2 linked regions of the Homo sapiens genome follow. The protein of the gene in region 2 purifies or fractionates together with the protein of the main gene of each other region. This does not show direct contact. Each region holds a gene or a part of one and is shown on either strand. Other genes may lie near its edges.

Region 1 (12,574 bases), on a different chromosome or scaffold from region 2:
CGTGCCCCGCCTCAAGGCTGGTCTTGAACTTCTGACCTCAAGTGATCCGCCCTCCTAGGCCTCCCAAAGTGCTGGGATTATAGGCATGAGCCACTGTGCCTGGCAGGTATTTTATTTTTATTGGTATACAATTTATAATGTATGTATTGGTGTACAGGTTATTTTACAAGTTCAAGTTAACAACATTTATTTGTCATAGGGCTGGGCGCCGTGGCTTATGTCTGTAATCTCAGTACCTAGCACTTTTTTTTTTTGGCAGAATCTTGCTCTGTCGCCCAGGCTAGAGTGCAGTGGCATGATCTCAGCTCACTGCAACCTCCACCTCCTGGGTTTAAGTGATTCTCATTCCTCAGCCTCCCAAGTGGCTGGGACTACAGGCGCCCACCACCACACCCGGCTAAAATTTGTATTTTTAGTACAGATGCAGTTTTGCCATATTGTCCAGGCTTGTCTCGAACTCCTGGCCTCAAGTGATCTGCCTGCCTCGGCCTCCCAGAGTGCTGAGGTTACAGGCATGAGCCACTGCGTTTGGCCAATCTCAGCACTTTCAAAAGCTGATGTGGGAGGATCGCTTAAGACCAGGAGTTCAAGATCAGTCTGGGCAACGTAGTGAGACCCCATCTCTGCAAAAAATATTTAAACCATTAGCCAGGTGTGGTGGGACATGCCTGTAGTCCCAGCTATTTGGGAGGCTGAGGCTGCAGTGAGGTATGATCACACCATTGCACTGCAGTCTGGGTGACAAAGCAAGACCCTCTCTCAAAAGAAAAAGAAAAAAAAATAAATAGAATGTAAGGCACATATGTAATCTTGTACCCACATTTAAAAAGTATAAAAATTCTCGGCATGGTAGTGCCTGCCTATAGCACCAGCTACTCGGGAGGGCTGAAGTGGGAGGATCACTTGAGCCTAGGAGTTTGAATCCAGCCTGGGCTAACATAGCAAGACCCTGTCTCCAAAAAGTATAAAGAAACGGTAAAATTATTTTAAAAATTAGGAATGCAAAAGGTTTATGGAAAAAAAATAAAAAAAGAGAAAATATTTGTTATAAAGTTAATCAGGAAGGGCAATGTTACTTTTTTGATGCATTTACATTTTGAGACTGCTGCAATGTTTTAAAAAGTAGCCTCATTCACGCCTGTAATCCCAGCACTTTGGGAAGCTGAGGCAGGCGGATCACGAGGTCAGGAGATCGAGACAATCCTGGCTAACACACGGTGAAACCCCGTCTCTACTAAAAAATATAAAAAATTAGCCAGGCGTGGTGGCAGGTGCCTGTAGTCCCAGCTACTCGGGAGGCTGAGGCAGGAGAGTCGCTGGAACCTGAGAGGCGGAGCTTGCAGTGAGCCGAGATCGCGCCACTGCACTCCAGCCTGGGCAACACAGCGAGACTCCGTCTCAAAAAAAAAAAAAAAAAAAGTAGCCTCAGTATCTCATTTTACCTTACACTAAGGCAATCTGGATTCACAGCAGTTGCATCCAATAACTTTAAAAAAAATTAGTTTTACAATTGCAGGATGCCTTTTAATTTATCTAATTAGGAGCTGGCAAAAGGTAAGATGATTGGCTGGATTCAGAATGGAATCTGTTGGCTTCTGGGACCTCCTCATCCTCCTGCATAGCAAGGACTCAAGGAGGGACTATTGCCGGAGTTTATATCTTCCTCCCAGAGTAGAAAATACTTTAAAATGTATCACATAAAGCCTGGGCATTGTTAGGTTTTCATTCCAAATTTTAAAACAGTTACTTTGAAATTGTTGACACTGGCCCACTTTGGTACAAATGGTAACACTGTAAACCCGAATTCTCCAAATGAGCTTTTCCACTTAGTAAAATAAGATAGAAGTAGAACCAACTGAAGAACTTGCAAAAAAATTGAGTGATCCCATGGCCGGGCGTGGTGGCTCACGCCTGGAATCCCAGCACTTTGGGAGGCCGAGGTGGGCAGATCATGAGGTCAGGAGATGGAGATCATCCTGGCTAACACGGTGAAACCCCGTCTCTACTAAAAAAATACAAAAAATTAGCTGGGCGCAGTGGCACGCGCTTGTAGTCCCAGCTACTCGGGAGGCTGAGGCAGGAGAATGGCGTGAACCCGGGAGGCAGAGCTTGCAGTGAGCCGAGATAGCGCCACTGCACTCCAGCCTCGGCGACTGAGTGAGACTCCGTCTCAAAAAAAAAAAAAAAAAAAAAAGAATGGATTGATCCCAATTCAGGGCACCTGGGCAGTGCCCAGTGCCCACTTGGGAAGCCCTGTTTGTATGCTGCTCCATACCTACCTTTGTCTGGGAGCAGGCTCCAGCCGGGCATGGCAGGAGTGGAACATTGTACTTGCTGGTACAATTTGACGTGAGCAGACATGTGCAGCCAGAATGGAACAAAACAAAACAAAGCCAGGGAGATTGGGGTAATTGCCTCCTAATCAATGACACATTTACAAAGAATTCAGATCTTTACACGTACTTGGCAGGTGAGCATGTCATTCAGAGGTATGTTCAGAAATGTGTTCCTCCAGCCGCCATAGTTAGTGCTTTGATATGGCCAAAATATTAACAGTTGGTGCACAGCACGTGTTCTTAGGTTTGTTTTCCATTTATTTATTTATTTATTTATTTATTTATTTATTTATTTATTTTTGAGACAGGGTCCTGCTCTGTTGCCCAGGCTGGAGTGCAGTGGTGCAATCTTGGTTCACTGCAGCCTCAATCTCCTGGGCTCAAGTGATCCTCCCACCTCAGCCTCCTGAGTACCTGGGACTACAGGCCTGCACCACCACGTCTGTCTAATTTTTTTTTTTTTTTTTTTTTTTTTTGAGACCAGGATCTCATGATGTTGCCCAGACTGGTCTCCAACTCTTGGACTCAAGTGATGCTCCCGCCTTGGCCTCCCAAAGTACTGGGATTTTAGGCGTGAGCCACCACGCCCAGGCTTTTCTTTTAGACACGATTAAAAATTTAAAAAAGTGAATATACCCTGAAGCACTTTTACAAAATCAGGGGTCCTTGAACACACTGAACAATGACCTGTGCCAGGCCCCATGCTGAATATTGCAGAGCGAACTCACAAATCCTCACAGATTCTCTAAGCTAACAATCACTAGGTTTTGTGATTATCCCCGTTTTACAGTAGGGAAAACCAAGGGCTGGAGTAGTGAAGTCACTTGCCAGGGCCGCAGAGCTCCTTGCCGCTCGGCTGCCTTACTGCCTTGTTTCCCCTGGCTTCTCTTTGTGCCTGCAATGCAGCCAAGTGGAACCCTCCTCTCTTCCTGGACAGGAGGAGTTCTTGCCTCCTGATCTTTGCTCTCTGTAATCTTCCACTCATTTTGGCTCAGGTAAACAGCACTGTTTTCAATACCACTGCACCCTCTTCTGTTCTAAACTCTATGTCCTTGCCAGATCTTTCCAGGAACATCAGCAGGACCCAGGTCCACCCCGAGCCACCTTCCCTGCCTGGCACGTTCTAAATATTGGAATTATTGAGTGAGTGAATGTCTGTAACTGATTTTGATTTTTTTTCTTGAAAGACATGTATCACTGTACAATCCATAAATCACTGTACTTATCACACTGAAAATACACGTATCACTGTATTTTCAGCAATACAACTATATCTGGATGTTTTAAATTTTTTGAGAATATGATATTCTCTGTGCAAGTATGTTTTAGCCCAGACTGTCTGTTTATCCAGGCTGCTTAGTGGGAAATGGTTAATAAAGGACTAAACTAAAGCCGGTCAGTCTCAGTCCCAGGCACTCTGTGGCAATGGTCACATTTTGGGGGAAGGAAGGAGCAGCTGACAAGGCATGACCACATGTCCACCGTTCAGACACAGCATTCACAGCCGTGTGCCCGGAACAGCTCTCCATGCTTTGACTCCTTACCACAGCCCTGTTGCTCTTCCTAATCCCCATATCACGGAGGGGACACAGAGGTGCAGAGAGCTGCAGTGACTGGCCCAAGGCCCCTTGGCTGAAAAGGGGTGGAGGCAGGATTGGGCTCCAGGCCTGTTCAAATATGACTGAAGGAGGAGGCTGGATGGAATGTTGTGAAATGTTTGTGGGGAACAAAGTTGGGGTGCTCACATGTGGCAACGGGGAGCTATCTTTGGAAAAATACCCTGATAAGCTGCCAGGACAGAAGGTATAAGGCCCAAAGAGTTCAGGCAATGATGTCAAGCTGCTAGGTGCAAGACAAGGAAAGGAATTTTGTGTTTGTCCTGAGAAGGAGGAGGAGAGAAAAGAAGAGGGGGAGAGTGCAGAAAACCAAAGGCATGTGAAGTGGCCAGAGTGTGGCATGGGTCACGTGACCAGGTGGTGACTCCTGGGGCCAGGCAGCCAAAAAGGCTCACGAGGCATCCTGTCTTGTTGCTGGGCAGTGCCAGGCTTGATGCCTCTCTCCAGCTTCCAGTCTTCAGGAACCCCTGCTAGACTCAGCAGTGCTTGGAGTGCAGGGGGATTCGTGCAACTGGATAAGGGGATGATGGTGAGACCAGTGAGCATGCGGTGTGTGGAAGAGCAGGAGGCCTGATGACAGACGCTTGTTCAGAAACCTTGGGAGAGGCTGCGTACAGTGGCTCGTGCGTGTAATCCCAGCACTTTGGGAGGATGAGGCAGGAGGATTGCTTGAGCCCAGGAGTTCAAGACGAGCCTGGGCAACATGGCGAGATTCTGTCTCTACAAAGATTTTAAAAAATAATTAACTGGGCATGGTGGTGCGCACCAGTGGTCGCAGCTACTTGGGAGGCTGAGGCAGGAGGATGGCTTGAGCCTAGGAGGTCAAGGCTGCAGTGAGCCATCATTGTGCCACTGCATTCCAGCCTGGGCATCAGAGTGAGACCCTGTCTCAAACAAACCAAAACAAAAACCCCCAAAAATTTGGGAGAGGCTCTGTATTTCTTTTTTTTTTTGAGGCGGAGTCTCACTCTGTTGCCCGGGCTGGAGTGCAGTGGCGCGATATCAGCTCACTGCAAGCTCCGCCTCCCGGGTTCACGCCATTCTCCTGCCTCAGCCTCCCGAGTAGCTGGGACCACAGGCGACCGCCACCACGCCTGGCTAATTTTTTGTATTTTTAGTAGAGACAGGGTTTCACCATGTTAGCCAGGATGGTCTTGATCTCCTGACCTCGTGATCCGCCCGTCTCGGCCTCCCAAAGTGCTAGGATTACAGGCGTGAGCCACAGCGCCCGACAAGGCTCTATATTTTTATAGGGCATGGAATTGCGATGTAAGCGGAACTTACCCAGATATGAAAGTGCTGAGAGCTGATGGCTGAGTTCTATCTATACAAATGGTCCACAGGTATTGTGGGTGGCAAAGAGGTCCCTGTTGGCTCAGTCCTGGAGAATGAGGAGAGACTTCTTGGCAGTGGTTTGTCCTGGCACTGTGTGTTGGTTTTTTTTTTTTTTTTTTGAGATGGAGTCTCGCACTGTCGCCAGGGCTGGAGTACAGTGGCGTGATCTTGGCTCACTGCAACCTCCGCCTCCCAGGTTCAAGTGATTCTCCTGCCTCAGACTCCCAAGTAGCTGGGATTACAGGTGCATGCCACCACACCCAGCTAATTTTTTGTATTTTTAGCAGAGACAGGCTTTCACTGTGTTGGCCAGGCTGGTCTCAAACTCCTGACCTTGTGATCTGCCCGCCTCGGCCTCCCAGAGTACTGGGATTCCAGGCGTGAGCCACCGTGCCTAGCCGGTTCTTTTGTTTCTTTCTCAATTATTGTCATAAGGACAATGCCACAGAGCAGTCTAGAAAGTAAACAACCACTAGATTTCTTTGTGGACTCTTTTCTCATACCTATCTATATGTAGCAGCAATTCTACAGTTTCTACCATTTTGTATCTAGCTTTTTCTTTTATTATTATTTTCTTTTATTTTACTTTTTAGAGAACTGGGTCTTGCTATGTGGCCCAGGTTGGCCTCAAACTCCTGGGCTGAAGCGATTCTCCTGCCTCGGCGTCCCAAGAAGCTGGGATTCCAGGTGCATGTCACCATGCCTGGCTCTATCTGGCTTTTTCTTTTAACGTTTTAGTTTAAGCATTTTCCCATAGTGCTACACAGTCATCATTATTATTCTCAAGGGTTGGGCTGACCTGGGTTTCTAATCCTGGCTCTGCCATTTACTCTCTTTACTCCACATCACCCCCAGCAAGTTACCTGGCTCACCCCTCACCTGGGGTTCCTCTCACCATCCTCTCCACCTGGATGACATGAAGCAGTGCTTGGACAGCGCGTAGGACAGTGCTCAGGAAGTGCTCTCCATTTTCCTTCAAGAGTATTTCCCTCTGCAGAACGGGGCTAATACCCTATCATGCAAGGTGATTGTGAGAATTGGAAAGAATGCGTGTGCATTGCCTGGTGCCTTGCCATCCAAATATATTTTATTAGAGAGAGCAGCAACATACGCCCCCCCAACCCCCCGTTTAAACTAAGCGGGTCCACGTGGAATGACGCTTTTGGCGCAAGTCGGAGGAGCTCCTAACGACATTAGCTTCTTTGAGTCCCTTGGGAGAGGAAACTTTCTGAAAGACTGTAGGATTACCTTCCCTGAACTTCCGGTCAGGTGCGGTGCTGCCCTGCCGCGCCCTCTTACCCCTGGATGCCGACGAAACCGCAAAACTCCAGCCCCGGGAAGCGCGTCTCAAGGACCACCACCAGCGAGCGGCTTTGGGAGAGTAATCTGCGCCACCCTCGCAGCCCATTAAATAGGCACTCCCCGTTTGATTGACAGGAGAAGTCACCAATGCGCGTCCTGGGGCTTTCCCTCGTCCTCACGCGGGGTGAGCCGCCTCTCTACTCATCTGGCCCAATCGGGGGCGCCGGGGAGGCTGTGGGGCGGGGCTCGGTGTCCGGTAGCCAATGGACAGAGCCCAGCGGGAGCGGCGGGGGCGGTGCGGTCGCGGCTGGCGGCAGAAGCGGCCGCAGGGGTCTGGGCAGGGCTGGGCAGTGCTGCCGGAGCAAAAGCGGTAGCGGGAGCCCGGCCGGAGCTGGGTCTGGAGACGCCGTGGCAGCCTGAACGGAGTGTGCGACGGATTGGGAGGTGAGTGGCCGCCGAGGTCAGGGGTCGCCGCGACGGTTGGGGCGCCGCGGGCGGGACGCGGGGGCGCTGGTCCGCGGCCGGGCCCGCGCCCCGTCAGGGCCGCCGCGCCGAGCTCCGCGCCCTGAGGGAAGCGGGTCGGGCCGCGCGGAACTTCCTGTCTCTGTGGGAGGGGGCGAGTGCTCGGGGCCCCGGGGGGCGCCTGGAGAAGACATCTTGGGGAGGACGAGGGCGAGTGGGGTCGGCTCGGGGAAGGGGCGGGGGCCCATGGGGGCGGCGCTGTGGGAGCGGGGCAGTTTTCCGGGGTCCGGGGCCTGCTGGAGAGGGAAGTGCAGGAGCAGGGCCGTCGGGGGTTAAGAGCTGCTAATGAGTGGGGGAGGTGTAGACAGCTGCAGAAGGGGGAGCTGGGGCGACTTTTGGAGGGACGCGATTTAGGAGAAAGCTGGGAATCCGAGACGTGCAGAGGTTAGGCGAGGGTGCCGGAGCAACGCTGGAGGGAAGGCGTGGCTGGGACGCGCCGGTGAGAGGGCAGGGCTTAGTCCTGGGGTGGCCTGGGGGGCGACGCAGGACACACGCGGGTGCGCTGATTTCGGGCGCTTTGATGAGCGGCCTCCATTTCCTTCCTTCCCACCCTCCGTGTCCCGGGGGGGGGGGGGTGGTGTGTGTGTGTCTGTGTGTGTGTGTGTGTGTGTGTGTGTGTGTAGGGCGGGGGGAGCAAAGCCCTTACCGCAGCACGTCCTAGGGCTGGGGCCAAGCAGGAGAGGCCGGGGAGGTTTGCCCTTGTGACCCTCCTCAGAGTTTCCCCAGACTCACTGAATCAGAAATCCGAACTCCTTACTCCTCTAGGGCTTTCAAGCCTGGCCAGGCATCCTGAGAGGTCCGCAATTGGAGAGGTAGTGATTGCTGCTGCTGTTGAATTTCATTGATTCATTGGGTTTCGGCTCCATCAGAGAAGGTCGATTTTCTTTTCAGAAGGAGTTGGTTGGTCAGGGGAGCAAGCTGTGCTATTGCTTTGGGGCCCACACGGCTGCAGCCTTTGACGTATAACAGGACCTGGGGATGCCACTCTTGGCTTGGGTGCCTGAGGGAAGGTGGCCTTTGGCTGGGTGTGTGCACCATTCCTGGATCCTGTCTTCTCTTTTTCCCTCCGCCTGTCCGGTGTTTTTGTGGTTAAGGGGGTAGGCTGCTCAGAGTCTCCAGGGCTACTTGGTACACTGTTTACCAAATACTGCCTGGCTGTCTTGATGAAAATCAGGAAACCAGCTCAAAGAGTTTGAACCTCAGCTGCAGATGGTGAGCTCACACCTTCTTCCTTCCCTCCTTTTCGGTGCCTTCCTCTGCGGTTATTCCCGTGTGCTGAAGTTCTGTTTTAACCCTCCTGGGATTGCCAGGTTGGAGCCCAGGGCAAGGGAACCGACCAGGCAGGCAGTGTTGAATGCCAGCCCTCCTGTTCTTGCCCAAGATGTTGTCGTTCCACTTGATTCATGAGCCTGCCTGCATGCAGCCTCCTCATGGAGACATTGAAGCTGTGCCAGTGCAACTTGGATCTCTCTTGATTCACCTGGAAAACTTTCACTTGTGTGGACTTAAACTTAATTCTAGAGTTTGGTAGCCTCTTTGGTGAGGTTATGCTGGTTGAGATATGAGGCCACTACATCAAAAACATTGGTGTGTTTTTCTTTTGACAATAGACTTAAAGCTTTAAAGAAAGTGGCCATTAGGCTGGTGATATTTATTACTTGGGAAAGTAACATAACACAGAGAAGTAGATGGGTGATTAGGTCTGCACTCTTTATCCACTTTTTGGGAGAAGAATAACAACTCATTTGAATGGAAATGGTATCCTTAGCTCGTGCTGCTTTGGGACTTGGAACTTTATCACTTTTAATCTCAAATGTATATGAAGTTGTGATGTGATATTTAAATAATCTAGGCTGGGCGGGGTGGCTCACGCCTGGGATCCCAGCACTTGGGAAGGCCGAGGCGGGCAGATCACCTGAGGTCAGAACTTAGAGACCAGCCTGGCTAACATGGTGAAACCCCGTCTCTACTAAAGATACAAAAATTAAGGCCGGGCGTGGTGGCTCACGCCTGTAATCTCCAGCACTTTGGGAGGCAGAGGCGGGCGGATCACCAGAGGTCGGGAGTTCGAGACCAGCTTGACCAACATGGAGAAACCCCATGTCTACTAAAAATACAAAATTAGCTGGGTGTGGTGGTGCTCATACCTGTAATCCCAGCTACTTGGGAGGCTGAGGAAGGAGAATTGCTTGAACCCAGGAGGCGGAGGTTGCGGTGAGCCAAGATCCGGCCGTTGCACTCCAGCCTAGGCAACAAGAGCAAAACTCCTGTTTCAAAAAAAAAAAAAAATTAGTCTGGCGTAGTGGTGCACACGTGTAATCTCAGCCTCAGCTACTTGGGAGGCTGTGGCATGATAATTGCTTGAACCTGGGAGATGGAAGTTGCAGTGCACTGAGATCACACCACTGCACTCTAGCCTGGGTGACAGAGTGAGACTCTGTTTAAAAATAAATAAATCTAAAAGTATGCATATATTTAAAAAAAATTCTGGATTTCCACCAACATAGCATTCTGCAGGGAGATAACATGAACTTTTCCCTAATCCTGGATACCCATCCACATCTCTGATGGCCAGGCATTTCTGGAGTGGGAGCAGAGGGGCATTTGTCCTTGCTTTTTTTTTTTTTTTTTTTTTGAGAGAGAGTCTCTGCCCAGGTTCAAATGATTCCTCTGCCTCAGCCTCCTCAGTAGTTGGGATTACAGGCGCCTGCCACCTTGCCTGGCTAGTTTTTGTATGTTTGTATGTATGTATGTATGTATGTATGTATGTATGTATGTATGTATGTATTTATTTATTTTGAGACAGAGTCTCGCTCTGTCGCCCGGGCTGGAGGCAGTGGTGCGATCTCAGCTCACTGTAACCTCTGCCTCCCAGGTTCAAGTGATTCCCCTGCCTCAGCCTCCTGAGTAACTGGGACTACAGGCATCCACCACCACGCCTGGCTAATTTTTGTATTTATAGTAGAGACGGGATTTCACCGTGTTGGCCAGTATGGTCTCGATTTCCTGACCTTGTGATCCACCTGCCTTGGCCTCCCAAAGTGCTGGGATTACAGGCACCTGCCACCTTGCCTGGCTAGTTTTTGTATTTTTAATAGAGATGGGGTTTTACCATGTTGGCCAGGCTGATCTGGAACTCCTGACCTCAGGTGATCTGCCCACCTCAGCTTCCCAAAGTGCTGGGATTACAGGCGCCTGCCACCTTGCCTGGTTAGTTTTTGTATTTTTAATAGAGATGGGGTTTCACAGTGTTGGCCAGGCTGATCTGGAACTCCTGACCTCCAGTGATCTGCCCGCCTCGGCCTCGCAGATGTCCTTGCCTTTTGTTTCTTCTCTATACCTTGAAAGTCTGTGCTGTGTTAAGGGCGTCATGCTCAGGCTTACTGATTCTGAAGGGGTTATCAGTGGATGATTCCGGATGTTGTGGAATATCAAACAGATCGAAAAGTTTCTTTAATAATAGTGATGGCACCTTGTGTTTAGAGTTCGCAGTGGCATTTACCAGATGCTCTCTGGCCACCTTCATGTGAACCTCCCAGCTGACTCGGGCCTGCTTTATCTGCCATCAGATTGTAATGGCAGCTTTGTGGAGGCCGCCCTGTAGATTATGCGATTAATGACCACATTCATGTGAGCAATAGTGCTGGCTTAGTTTTTTTCCAGTTAGGTTGTTTGGAATGGTAGCTGCATACCTGAGGGCAGTGCAGCAATGCCTTAGTTACGAAGGCAGTTTGCATTCCACAGGTAGAGTCTTTCCTTATGGCCAGGGCACTGATCCCTCACATACCAGAAAGTATCATTCGTCCCTGCCCCAGACAGACTCCAGATGCGTCCCAGTGGTGGTTCTTGGGATAGTTTTGTAGGAATTTCTGCAGAATTTTAGTGTTCAGATGAGTATGCTCTGTCTGTGGACTGGAGACAGGCTTCAAAGAATTCTCAAATTATTCTGCACAATACATCATTTTTTGGTATCTCTGCAGTTCCAAAGGTAACTACTTGAGGGACAGTGGCCACCAAAGAGCACAAGTTTTGACATTTTGATGAAAAGCACACATAAAACAAATAAAAACCACCTTTCCTTAAGTTACCTATTGAATTGTGCTTATTCCCATAAATGCATGTTCATCTGTTTGCTTAATAAAACTTAAAGCACCATAGAGTCTTTCTTGTTTCCTAGAATAAGGTCTTTTTTCTTTTCCTTTCTTGTCTTTTTTTGTTGTTGTTGTTGTTGAGACGGAGTCTCGCTTTGTTGCCCAGGCTGGAAGTGCCCTGTGGTGTGATCTTGGCTCACTGCAGGCTGCGCCTCCCGAGTTCATGCCATTCTCCTGCCTCAGCCTCCCAAGTAGCTGGGACTACAGGCGCCCGCCGCCACACTTGGCTAATGTTTTGTATTTTTAGTAGAGACGGGGTTTCACTATGTTAGCCAGGATGGTCTTGATCTCCTGACCTTCGTGATCTGCCCGCCTCTGCCTCCCAAAGTGCTGGGATTACAGGCGTGAGCCACCGTGCCTGGCCGGTCTTTTTTATTTTCAATTAAAAAAAAATATATATATATATGTATTTTTAAACAGAGATGGGATTCCGCCATGTTTGCCAGGCTGGTCTCAAACCCCTGGCCTCAAGTGATCCTCCCATCTCGGGTTCCCAAAGTGCTAGGATTACAGGTGTGAGCTACCACACCTGGCCTATTTTCAATCCTAAAAAAATCATTTGCGTGTTTCTTGATTTTAGGCACTGAACTAGACGGAGATGAGAATATAGAAATAATAAAATGGGGCTGGGCGCTGTGGCTCACACCTGTAATCCCAGCACTATGGGAAGTAAAGGAGCAGATCACTTCAGGTCAGGAGTTCGAGACCAGCCTGGCCAACATGGTGAAACCCCATCTCTGCTGAAAATACAAAAATTAGTCGGGTATGGTGGCGTGCGCCTATAATCTCAGCTACTCGGGAGGCTGAGGCAGGAGAATCACTAGAACCCGGGAGGCAGAGGCTGCAGTGAGCCGAGATTGTGCCACTGCACTCCAGCCTTGGGTGACAGAGCAAGACTCTGTCTCAAAAAAAAAAAAAAAAAAAAATAGAAAAAATAAAATGATGTCTCAACTATCAAAGACCTCGCAAGAAGCCTTAAAAATGATAAATAAGGCTAGAGATTTTGCTGTACCTTTGGAAAGTGCATGTGTGGTGGTTTATAGTACATATTCTGTGGCCAGATAAAATTTATATGATTATTTTTCCTCCCAAGAATATGAGATGACAGAGGGGGAGGAGCGTGGATGGAGACTAGGAGCCTTGGGCTCTTGTCCAGCCTTTCCCTGACCAACCCTGAGGTCTGGGACAATCAGCACAGAACTCCAGGTCTCAGTTTTCATATTTGTAAAATGAAGGACTTAGAGGACCTTCACCTTTTGCAAATCTGATAGCAACTGTGACCCCTTCCCACGAAGGGGGACAGCTTCATAGG
Region 2 (12,545 bases):
AATTATACAAATAATTTTTATTTCAAATTAGCTTCTTTCTACTACTCAGTATAATCCTCTCACAGCCTGGCATATACTTGGTAGCACATCATTCACTAGAGAGAGTACGAGAGAAAATTAGGTTGACAATATGGGGCAAAGGGGTAGTCTCCTTTAAGGTGAGGGGAAAGGAGATGGGAATGAAACATGCCAAGTGTATGATGGTTAGGGAAAGAAATATCTTAGTAGAAGCTAGAAAACCTCTACTAACAGGATCACATTCCAAAAGGGCAACCAGGAAATGGCAATGACTCCATGACTTCTCTGTCAGAGCACCAATGGTCAAAGGCATTCCATGTCAAGTGTCAGGAAATGGAAAGCGAACCGGCCAATCTAGTTTAACAGCACATACTCGGAAAAGGAAACACGCTGCCAAAGGAAAGAGCTGACATCCAGTCCACAGAGGTTCTGAGTACCCAGTGGCAGTGAGCCCCTCCAAACTCTGCAGAGCTGACTGTGCTGTCTGCACCCTGCCTCATTTGGGGAAGAATCTGAGAGAGCTAAAAGACAAATTTCAGAAGGTGATGTTTTCAAAGAAAGAGTAAACAAACAGCTTGACAATGTTGACTTTTTTTTTCTTTTCAGGTAACCCTTGTTTGCAGGAAGATAAATAAGAAGGCTTCCTTAGGATACTGACCCACTTAGAGAGGCACAGAAGGAAGAAGAGTTAAAAGCAGCAAAGCCGGGTTTTTTTGTTTTGTTTTGTTTTGTTTTGTTTTGAGATGGAGTCTCACTCTGTTGCCCAAGCTGGAGTACAACGGCATGATCTCAGCTCGCTGCAACCTCCGCCTCCCACGTTCAAGTGATTCTCCTGCCTCAGCCTCCCAAGTAGCTGGGATTACAGGCGCCCGCCACCACGCTCAGCTAATTTTTTTTGTATTTTTAGTAGAGACAGGGTTTCACCAGGTTGGCCAGGCTGCTCTTGAACTCCTGACCTCAGGTGATCCACCCGCCTCGGCCTCCCAAAGTGCTGGGATTACAGGCGTGAGCCACCACGCCCGGCCCCCAAAGCTGTTTCTTTTGTCTTTAGCGTAAAGCTCTCCTGCCATGCAGTATCTACATAACTGACGTGACTGCCAGCAAGCTCAGTCACTCCGTGGTCTTTTTCTCTTTCCAGTTCTTCTCTCTCTCTTCAAGTTCTGCCTCAGTGAAAGCTGCAGGTCCCCAGTTAGTGATCAGGTGAGGGTTCTTTGAACCTAAGAGGCAAACATGCTTTAAATACAGGAAGTATTATATTCTTCAGGATACCCCATCATTTTTCTACAGACAAAATAGTAACTTCCCTACTTTATTTCTTCTTTGAGGAACATGCATAAATGTCATACCAGCTAAAACAATTAGAAGATGTATACCAAGGGGATTAACTGGGCCCTCTTACCTATTAGGGGATAAGATTTTCAAGAGAAATTTATCCTGAACAGCTTGGTTTTTTTACATTTGGGCTAAAAAAGTTTCTTTAGTACAATTCAAATACACAAGTGAAACAGAAAAATAAATTTAAAAATAAATATATGGGCAGGGCGTGGTGGCTCACGCCTGTAATTCCAGGACTTTGGGAGGCTGAGGCGGGCGGATCACGAGGTCAGGAGATCAAGACCATCCTGGTTAACACGGTGAAACCCCGTCTCTACTAAAAATACAAAAAATTAGCCGGTCGTGGTGGCGGGCACCTGTAGTCCCAGCTACTTGGGAGGTTAAGGCAGGAGAATGGCATGAACCCAGGAGGCGGAGCTTGCAGTGAGCCAAGATCGCACCACTGCACTCCATCCAGCCTGGGCGACAGAGCGAGACTCCATCTCAAAATAAATAAATTAATTAAATAAAATAAAAATGAAAAATAAAAATAAATATATGATTACTTCATAGAGTCTGTTACCTGGTTCTATCAGTCGAATTAATCCTTCATGATGGGCCACTTTGTCCTTCCAGCTCTTGGTCTTATTAGTTGCCATCTCCAGCTTCTTTTTAACTTCCTGAAACAAAAGTGGATTTTGGACTATGCAGACACACGGGTAGTTTAAGAACCAAATCACAACTATTGGGCCCTTACTATGTATTTGTGAATTATCTCATTAAATCCTCTCATAGCCCATTCTAAGAAGTGGGAACTACTATTACCCCATTGTACAGAGTGAAAACGGGTTCAGAGAAGGTCAGTAACCTGCCGAGAGTCACACAGCAGGAAATGGTAGAGCCAGAATTGGAACCCAGGCTGTCTGATTCCAAAGCCTATTCTTCCACCATCTGCATACGAATTACAATGGGTGTATGGCCCTGTGTGCCAGTTACAGTTTACTGCCTCTCCACTCCAAATCCACCCTGAACTGTCCTGCTGGTGAAACTAAAATAATTCTCCTCACTAGCTGGCAGCATAAAGCTTTGTCAGTAGAGGGTGCTGAAGGGACACGAGGAGGGAGGGACTTTTCTTCTAGGTTCCACTCAGCGGCTCCTGTGGCACTCAGAACACCCACAGTGCTCACCACCAGTGAGTTTCTGTAGCACCTCCCTGTGGGCAGCTTTTGCCGGTGGCCTCCCAGTGAGCTTTGCTGGCACAGCACCTCAACAAACTTTTCTGCCATCTGTGCACCCTCTCCATGGAGGTATGGATCACAACACTGGGGTTAAGGGGCAAGAAGCAAAGAATGCTCTTCCAGATCCACTCCCTCCCTGGTGCTCTGCCTCAGTTTTCGAGGCAGTGGCTGCTCCCTACGTCTGCTGTTCCTGCATTCTCAAAGCCTTCTTTACAACACAGTAGGTAATCTCCTATGACAGTTAATAATGTTTTATATTAAACTTTCCCTGTTCAAATTACTGTGCAGTTTCTGTCTCTGATGGATGTATAATATATCTTATCTCCTGTAAAAACTCCCTCTTTTTTCTTTCTTACAGCTAAGCAAGATTCTTACTACAGCTTCATATTGGCAGCTAAGCAAATAATTCTATTATTGAGAAATGTTTTTCAAAAATTTAAATATACAAGTTTGCAGGGCCAAGTCTCATTACCTCGTACTGCTCAAGTGCTTGCTTCCGTTCTAACTCAAGCTGCTCCAGCTGCTCCATGGCCTCCTGCAGGGCCTGTTCCTTCAGGACACGCTGATTCTCCAACTCCTGCTTCTCCGCCTCGGTTGTCTGAATGGCCTGCTGCTGCTCCAAGTGCCACTTTTCTAGTTCAGCCCTCTTGGAAGACTCTTCCTCCAACAACCTACAATGTGGAGGAAAGCTCCAGATCAAATCCTGCCCAGGTCACCACCCTGACCCAGCAGACGAGGGAAGCATTTTAGACAAGAGAATATTTGAGGTCGTCTAATCCCCCTTTCATTCCACCAGGAGGAAAGCAGGAGCCAGAGAAGCTCATATTCACAAAGCTGGTAAAGCAGCCTATATGTCCTGCTCTAAGCTCTCTCAGTTTCACCCGTTTGTGAAATAAAAAATAACATTTATCCAGAGTTTAATGTGTGCCAGGAACTGGCCTAAGAGTCAAGTGTATTTTCTCAATTAATCCTCACAGTAAATTTAGGTGCTGCTACTCATATTTTAGAGATGGTGCAAGTGAGACACAAAGGTTCAGTGGCCTGTACTAGGATCATCCACCTGCCAGGTGGCAGGGCCAAGATTTGAAGTTTGCCTGGTTGCTACAACATGAAAACATTTTCATCTAGTAAAAACCTGTTACCATGGAAAAAGCTGATAATGAAGATGAAGAAAGGAGTGAACGCAGACAGAATAGAGATACTATTTATTGAACAATTGCTACATGCCAGGCCCTTGCCTCCATTATTGCTAATCCCCTGACAATCCTGAAAGGTATTGTCCCTACATTACAGATGAAGCAATGAAAAACCAAAGGGTTTAAAAGTATGTTGCACAGGTTATAATGGATTTTAACCCAGGTCTGTGTGACTCCAAAATAACAGGAATACCTATCTGGGAATACCCAGCTATGTAGTTGTTTAAATAAACTAACAAACAGCCAAAACCTGCATTAAAGTGTATATAGTGTCGTTCGATGCCAGCCAAGGACAGGATACATATCTAGTGGCTTGAGCAACAATATTATGGTAACAAAGTCAAGTCACATGACTGGTCAGTTACTACTACCTGCCAGCATCTGCTCTTATAAAACTAACAACAAAGGAATAAAGTAACAGACTATACCAACACCAATTTCCAAATTCCCTCTACAACTTCCTGCAAGGTTGTTATTCAACTCAGCTCCAATACTCTAGGTGATGGGCTACCACTCGTTGCCTCACAAATTGGGCCAGTTTATTTATGGGCAGCTTCAATTCTTACGAAGTTTTTTCTTATACTAAGATGAGTTCTCCCATCCACTACCCTAGTTCCACAAAGGAAGTATCTACTCCCTCTTCCCTGTGATAGCCCTTTCGCAACTGGAAGGCAGCTTTGTTGCCTGTTGAGAACATCCTTCTCCAAGAAGACCACCTCCAGCCTTAACTAATGGGACCCAGCTTCCAGACTCAATATCCTTCTTTGGAGACACTGAGGTCTCCTCAGATGTCTCTTGGAGTTTGATGTACACAACAGAACACGACACTACAGATGTGGTCTGACCAGTGCAGAGTTTATTCACTCAGTTGATGTGTATTTTTTATGTGCCTTCTACGTGCTTTTCTAGGCACTGGGGATATAAGAATGAACAAGACTGGATGGGTCTGTTTTTTCATTCTAGTGGTAAAAGTATGGAGGGGGAATGGACATTTCCAGGTGCTTAGGCTGCCCAGCCTCTGAACTCCTTCATGTGTCTAGGGGAACTGCCATAGTAGAAGACTTGATGGAAGGTAGGGCTCATTTCCCGCTATAGAATCCACAGGCCAGACACCTGCCCTCCCACCCCTTGGCAGCTAGGGTATGGTGGAGGCACAAGCTGGGCTTGGCTATGTAGATGCTCCTTCTGGAACTTTGACTCTGAAGCACCTGGCACAAAGAAGCAGAGCCAGTAGAGAATTCATCTTGCCGGTGGCAGTAATATGCAGTGTTGAGTGACAGCAGGAGCGATGGCACTGCTGATGCCTGGTACCAACATGGGCGCCAGCGGCATCCTCACTGGACTCTTCCCATGGCCTGGCTTGGGCTGTAGTTGGGGCTGCTCATCCCCCTGTGATTCCTGCCTGTGTTCAAGGCCTGGTCACCTGCCTTTCTGTGGAACTGGCAAACTATTTAAGAAACTTTCAACAAATTGTTTTATTGCTTTAGCTAATACAAGGTGGTTTCTGTGGTTCGCAAGTAAGACTCCTGACTAAAGACTTCAGTGCCTCACTCTTTTTCTGTGTATCGGCTTCCTCATTTATCAAAAAAGGAATAGAAACTACACCTACCATCAAAGGTTTATTAGTGTATTAAATGCGATAATGCACATAAGGTGTTTACATGCCTACCACACAGCAAGTACTGGTAGGTAACAGCTCATATTATAGAGGGACAATTATCTCATTTGCTCTGGACACTTCACATTCATTAAGGCTGCCTAAGAGTGTATAGGGTTTTGGCAACCACATTTCAGGGAAATGAAACTGTAGAACTTTTCAAATGAATTTCTATAAAGCCAAGTCTCCTGGATCCTGTACTTGTTCTTTTGATATGTTAAATTAGCTTCTTGGTCTAAAATCATCATTCTAGCCTGTCAACATCTTTTTTCTGAATGCTTATTTTTACATTCCACACATTATATATCTTCCCCGTCTGCAAATGAGATAAAGGAACAGAAAGCAACACACTCGGAGTGACTCCCAAATGCTAGGCATTACTCTAAAACACTCTGCATGCATCATTTCATTTCATCCTCACAACAACTGTATAAAGTTGGCCATTCTCTCAAGTTACACAGCTAAAAGTACCAGAGCCAGGAATCAAACCGTGGCCTCATTCCAGAGCCCAGTCTCTAACCTTCAAATATATGAAAAGTATTATATCAAATGTAAGAGGGACTGTTGTTCCATGTGGTCCCATTGGATCCATTCATTCATTCAAAAAAATTTCCCTGGGTACTTACTGTGTGCCAGGTACGAGTTGCTGGGAATACAGACACGACTAAGGTGTACTCCAGGGTGTTACAGATCCAAAGTGGGTAAGAGTTACAACAGGACAGATTATGGCTCAGCCTCAAGAACTTTCCAATAACTCGATTTTTCTTAATTTTTTCTTTTTTGTTTTTTTCTTTTTTGAGACAGGCTGGAGTACAGTGGTGCAATCTCAGCTCACTGCAACCTCTACCTCCTGGATTCAAGTGTCTCAGCCTCCCGAGTAGCTGGGATTATAGGCATGCACCACCACGCCCAGCTAATTTTTGTATTTTTAGTAGAGACAGGGTTTCACCATGCTGGCCAGGCTGGTCTCAAACTCCGAGCCTCAAGGGATCCGCCCGCCTCAGCCTCCCAAAGTGCTGGGATTAGAGCGTGAGCCACCATGTCCGGCCAATAACTTGAGTATTCTACATTTTAAATGAACAGTTTTCTTCTGAGTTCTCATTCAGAAGTGGCTAGATCACCTTCAGGATTACACATAAAAAAATAAACTTCATAGCAGAAAGGGTGACTATAGTCAATCATAATTTAATTGTACATTTAAAACTAACTAAAACAGTATAGTGGACTGTTTGTAAGACTAAGGATAAATGCTTGAGGTGATGGATACCCCATTTACCCTGATGTGATTATTACACATTGTATGCCTGTATCAAAATATCTCATGTACCTCACAAATATAAACACCTACTGTGTACCCACAAAAATTAAAAGTTAATAAAAAACTTCAATCGTAATTTTTAAAATTACAAGATCTGGCCAGGTGCAGTGGCTCAAGCCTGTAATCCCAGCACTTTGGGAGGCCGAGGCGGGTGGATCACGAGGTCAGGAGATCAAGACCATCCCGGCTAACACGGTTAAACCCCGTCTCTACTAAAAATACAAAAAATTAGCTGGGCGTGGTGGCAGGCGCCTGTAGTCCCAGCTGCTCAGGAGGCTGAGGCAGGAGAATGGCTTGAACCTGGGAGGCAGAGCTTGCAGTGAGCCGAGATCACGCCACTACACTCCAGTCTGGGTGACAGAGCGAGACTCCGTCTCAAAAAAAAAAAAAAAATTACAAGATCTACGTGTTTCAAGCTAAAGTTCTTGTCTTTCATTTAAACAATTTACTATAAAAAGTTTCTCTTTTTTTTTAAGACACTGTCTTTTTAAGAGACTGACAGAGAAAGAACTATCCATTAAAAGAATAATGAGATTCCAAATATTCCACGAATGATCGGCTGTTGCTTTAAGAAAGGAGTGAGCAAACAAATTTACAAGAAAAAAAGAAACAACCCCATCAAAAAGTGGGCGAAGGACATGAACAGACACTTCTCAAAAGAAGACATTTATGCAGCCAAAAAACACATGAAAAAATGCTCACCATCACTGGCCATCAGAGAAATGCAAATCAAAACCACAATGAGATACCATCTCACACCAGTTAGAATGGCAATCATTAAAAAGTCAGGAAACAACAGGTGCTAGAGAGGATGTGGAGAAATAGGAACACTTTTACACTGTTGGTGGGACTGTAAACTAGTTCAACCTTTGTGGAAGTCAGTGTGGCGATTCCTCAGGGATCTAGAATTAGAAATACCATTTGACCCAGCCATCCCATTACTGGGTATATACCCAAAGGATTATAAATCATGCTGCTATAAAGACACATGCACAAGTATGTTTATTGCGGCATTATTCACAATAGCAAAGACTTGGAATCAACCCAAATGTCCAACAATGATAGACTGGATGAAGAAAATGTGGCACATATACACCATGGAATACTATGCAGCCATAAAAAAGGATGAGTTCATGTCCTTTGTAGGGACATGGATGAAATTGGAAATCATCATTCTCAGTAAACTATCGCAAGAACAAAAAACCAAACACCGCATATTCTCACTCATAGGTGGGAACTGAACAATGAGAACACTTGGACACAGGAAGGGGAACATCACACACCGGGGCCTGTTGTGGGGTGGGGGGAGGGGGGAGGGATAGCATTAGGAGATATACCTAATGCTAAATGACGAGTTAATGGGTGTAGCACACCAGCATGGCACATGTATACATATGTAACAAACCTGCACATTGTGCACATGTACCCTAAAACTTAAAGTATAATAATAATAAAATTAAAAAAAAAAAAAAAGGAGTGAGAAGAGTTAACTGAGCAGCCTTTTACACAGGCCCTTGGCGTAAGATTATGTGCATTTCATTAGTGCCAGTTTTCCAACCCAACTCCAGGATGACTTCCCTTGATTTTTCTATCCAGAAAGGCCTATCCTGAGGAGCAAAGAACAAACCCTCTCTGCCAATCTGACAGAAAGTCCCTCTGAATCAGCCACAGCCTTCAGTGACTTCAGGAAAGAGGAACACATTTCACTTAAAAATGACCACTAGGCCGGGCGTGGTGGCTCATGCCTGTAATCCCAGCACTTTGGGAGACCGAGACAGGCGGATCACAAGGTCAGGAGATGGAGTCCATCCTGGCCAACATGGCAAAACCCCATCTCTACTAAAAATACAAAAATTAGCCAGGTGTGGTGGTGCGCGCCTGTACTCCCAGCTACTCGGGAGGCTGAGGCAGGAGAGTCGCTTGAACCCAGGAGGCGGAGATTGCAGTGAGCCGAGATCACGCCACTGCACTCCAGCCTGATAACAGAGCAAGACTCCATCTCAGAAAAAAAAAGGGAGCAGGGGGGCAAATTTGTCCATTTCAGGTTCCAAAAACTAAGAGAAAAAAAAATTTAGAATAATAAAATAATTATATTCATAAAATGCCCTTTGCACATTAAGAAAAAGTTAAATTTGTGTGCAGTACTTTCAGCATATTGGATCAGAGCTGTATGTAGAAGTTACATCTGGATTCAAAAGGTTGAAACCATTTTGCTATTGCTTAAATCAGAGTGTGCAAAATAATTAGCTGGAGTTTTTTGCCGTTGTTGTTTTGTGTTTTTTTTGAGACAGGGTCTCATTCTGTCCCCCAGGCTGTAGTACAGTGGTGCAAATGCAGCTCACTGCAGCCTCAACCTCCTGGACTCAAGTGATCCTCCTGCCTCAGCCTCCCAAGTAGACTTTTTTTTTTTTTTTTTTTTAAAGATGAGGTTTCACCATGTTGCTCAGGCTGGTCATAAACTCCTGGGTTCAAGTGATCCTCCAGCCTCGGCCTCCCAAAGTGTGGTGGGTGAGCCACACTTTGTGGTGTATTTTTCAGAAGCTTTGTGAGGTGATTCTGATACATAACATTGGTTAAAAAACCACTGGCTTCAATTATCCAAAATTATCCCTTATTCAAAATATCACTCATTCTATAAACACTAAATAACTAAGACTAGTATTTCTAGAATTATCTGGTTCCCTCTGTGATCTAGTCTCTGCTGTGTCATAATCAACTTCCCACAAAACTGCAGTAATACATATAGCATATTTCACCTGCGAATTCTTTGCACAAAAACAATCTATTAACTCTCAACACGGCTCAAATTATGAGGTGGCTCAAAAAATGTTGAGTGTCATGTAGAACGTCACTCTGGACGTCACATGGCACTCAAACATTCCCGTAGAGTGACTCTTCTGCTAAAATCACTGCCGAGTGGCACTGGAGGGGAGTTCCAAGAACCTGATTAACCTCACAGTGCAGTGAATGTGCACCTGTGGGGCCTATATATGCCTGGCAATATGCTACATGCTTAATTTTCTATTTAGAAAATAATTTTTCCTTAAAAAAATTTAAATTTAAAATCTAAATGTCCAAAACAATTTATTTATTTTTGAAGTCACTTTTGGCAAAATATACAACTAAAGATGGCTTCTTCTTTCTCTTCCTATCTAAAGATTAAAGAAACATCTTTTGCTGCTCCACATGTAAAATGGCAGCCATGGAAAATCTACCCTAGCTCATCTCATAACTGCTCCCCAAAACAGGGGGTCAGAGATCAAAGACTGGACCCTGTGCTGCTACTGTAGTGAATACTTTTTAGTGTTGTCTCCCATCCCAGACACCTTAAATAATGTAAATGGGGCAGCAAAGTAGAAACTGGCAGAGGATAGGCTCAATTTTTCCCTTTGGGAGTCTTCATTTTATTTTGTCCTCCCTGCTGCCATGAAGGCCCAAAATTGAGAATTTTCATCTGCGAACATGACTATCATAAAGTTCTAAGGGGAAAAAAAATCTAGGTTTCAAATACTTTTAAAATTAGGATTTCAAGTAGTAATTACTGAAGGAATGTTACCAATCCTGAATGACCAAATAGAAACTGCATATTTCTTCCTTATTCCTCAAAACCTGACGGCAACGTTGGCCTGAACAGGCCTCTGCCTGCATACCAATGGCCCTCTCTGGTCTGGAGCGTGTTGAAGATGCCAAGCTCTTATCAGAGGTAATTCTGGGTTTGTGGATTTTCTCGAATAAGACTAAGGGTACCTCATCAAACATACCTACCAGACTGCTCTAAAATAGGCCCTTATTTAGCCCCAGAAGCAAGGGTTTCCCAGCGCCTCAGAATGAAAAGAAACACTCCAGCCGGTCGAGTCTCCACAGTCTTTCTAATCTGGACAGCACCTCGAGCTCAGTCACAGCCAGAGCAGAGACACTTCTCCCTCTCCACCAGAGTGTTAGTCATTCCAAGAAACTGTATTAGCCCAGGCAAAGTACATAAAGGCAAAGTCTGCAAACAAATCTGGCACCTGGCCTGAAGCTTCCGCACTGTCTCTTCATCTTGCCGGGCCTGTCTCTCATCTTCAAGAGCCTCCTGCAGCTTTAGGTACATGTCTTCCAGCTCCCGTACTCGCTGTAAATACTGTTCCAGTTCAGAGGACTTTTGAGCAACCTGTTCTTCCATCTGCTGTCTGATCTGTTGGTATAAAAGGGTCTTGTTTAAATGCAGGTTGACTTCTTTCTCAGGGAAAGCCTCACCTCCACCTGAGGGGTTGCCCACAGCTGCAGCCTCAGCCCATCAGGGTGGCAGGACCCTGTCCTTCAATCCTTGAACTTAAAGATGGAGGAGATGAGGGTACCACACCCAATCGCAATAGTGAAAGAGTCTGGGAAGAGCAAATTATAACCCAAATTATGTTCTGCCCTGCTGTATTTTCCATCCCTTCCACTCCACATTTTAAGACTCAAGTCAAGAAAAAAATGTTTCCTTGTGTAATTTCTCTCTAAATTCCTTTCTGTCTTAAAGTCACAATCTTTTTACCAATAGGGTCTTCTCTAAAAGGAACGAACCTTTTCCCAGTCAGAGCAAACGAACCTTTTCCCAGTCTTCTTTAGTGTTACACTAAAGAAGAAGGAAAGGTCATCCAGCATGGGATTCCTCCCACACTTCCCTGGCTGTCTCCACTCCCTGGGGCACCTCCAGCCCTAGAGGAACTCAAGCATTTCAGTTAATCTGTATACGTTAATGGTTTTTCCCTTCTGGATTACAGAGTTTTGAATCCCTGCCTTAAAAATTACAAGACAAGAACATCCTAAATATAACAAACACATTAGCCTATTTCTCTGCAGTTGATAAAATATTTTCACTTGCATTAGCTCACTCTGTCTTCAGAAGAGTCATGAGAGAGCATGTGATAATCCTGAACTTAAAGAAGAAAAAGCCAATGTTCAGTAAGAAGGACCAGAGAGGAAACAAGACCAGACATTCTGGCTGTTTCTCTACATCACATTTGCCTTCCTCTTTTCTCTGAACCACAAACACATCTCTTTCAACTCTAAATAACAAAAAGTGACTAGAGGAAATGTCACATGCATCTATTTAGGCACTGGGCTTAGCACTCTCTGACAGAGTATCACTCAATGTGAGAAGACCTGTGTTCCAGCTAACCAGCTAACTACCTAAGACAACCTGGATCTTGGGTCTCTTGAAGATGGAAGCCTCTAGGATGAACCGGAGCTGCCAAGAGCAACAAATCAGACTCTAGATGTTCTCACAATTTCAGGATCTCACCCCCGCCATCCTTGCTTATTACAGAGGAGATATACCATGGAACCTATGCTTACTTTTTCCATAACTATTTATTTTCCAAATCAGAACTGTTTTGAGAATGAAAAGGAATGTTATTAATAATTATACCAGAATGGCAGGGACTCTCCCAGGCAAACCAGGAAATATAGTCACCCTAACCAAGCATTTATCACATCATTCCACAAATTTCTTTTTTTTTCTTTTTTGGAGACAGGGCCTTGCTCTGTCACCCAGGCTGGAGTGCAGTGGCAAAATCACAGCTCACAGTAGCCTTGAACTCCTGGGCTCAAGCAATCCTCCCACCTCAGCCTCCTAAGTAGCTGGAACTACAGGCATGTACCAACAGGCCTGGCTAATTCTTTTTTTTTTTTTTTTTTTTGTAGATATTGCCCAGGCTGGTCTTGAACTCCTGGGCTCAAGCAATTCTCATGCCTTGGCCTCCCAAAGTGCTGGGATTACAGGAGTGGGCCACCATGCCTGGCTCCATAAATTTCCACTTAGGAGTCTTGAAAAC

Evidence for each region.
Region 1: the proteins of SWAP70 (region 2) and PACSIN2 purify together in Homo sapiens (affinity purification with mass spectrometry; 2 studies listed by BioGRID and IntAct, with this or other methods). This does not show direct contact.

What each region holds. Positions count from the first base shown.
Region 1 is NC_000022.11:43,009,480-43,022,053, reverse strand, and holds the start of PACSIN2 (protein kinase C and casein kinase substrate in neurons protein 2), read left to right. Parts: upstream 1-6,904; 5' UTR 6,905-7,033; intron 7,034-12,574.
Region 2 is NC_000011.10:9,738,554-9,751,098, reverse strand, and holds part of SWAP70 (switch-associated protein 70), read right to left. Parts: intron 10,919-12,545; coding exon 10,752-10,918; intron 3,242-10,751; coding exon 3,043-3,241; intron 2,013-3,042; coding exon 1,916-2,012; intron 1,236-1,915; coding exon 1,129-1,235; 3' UTR 1-1,128.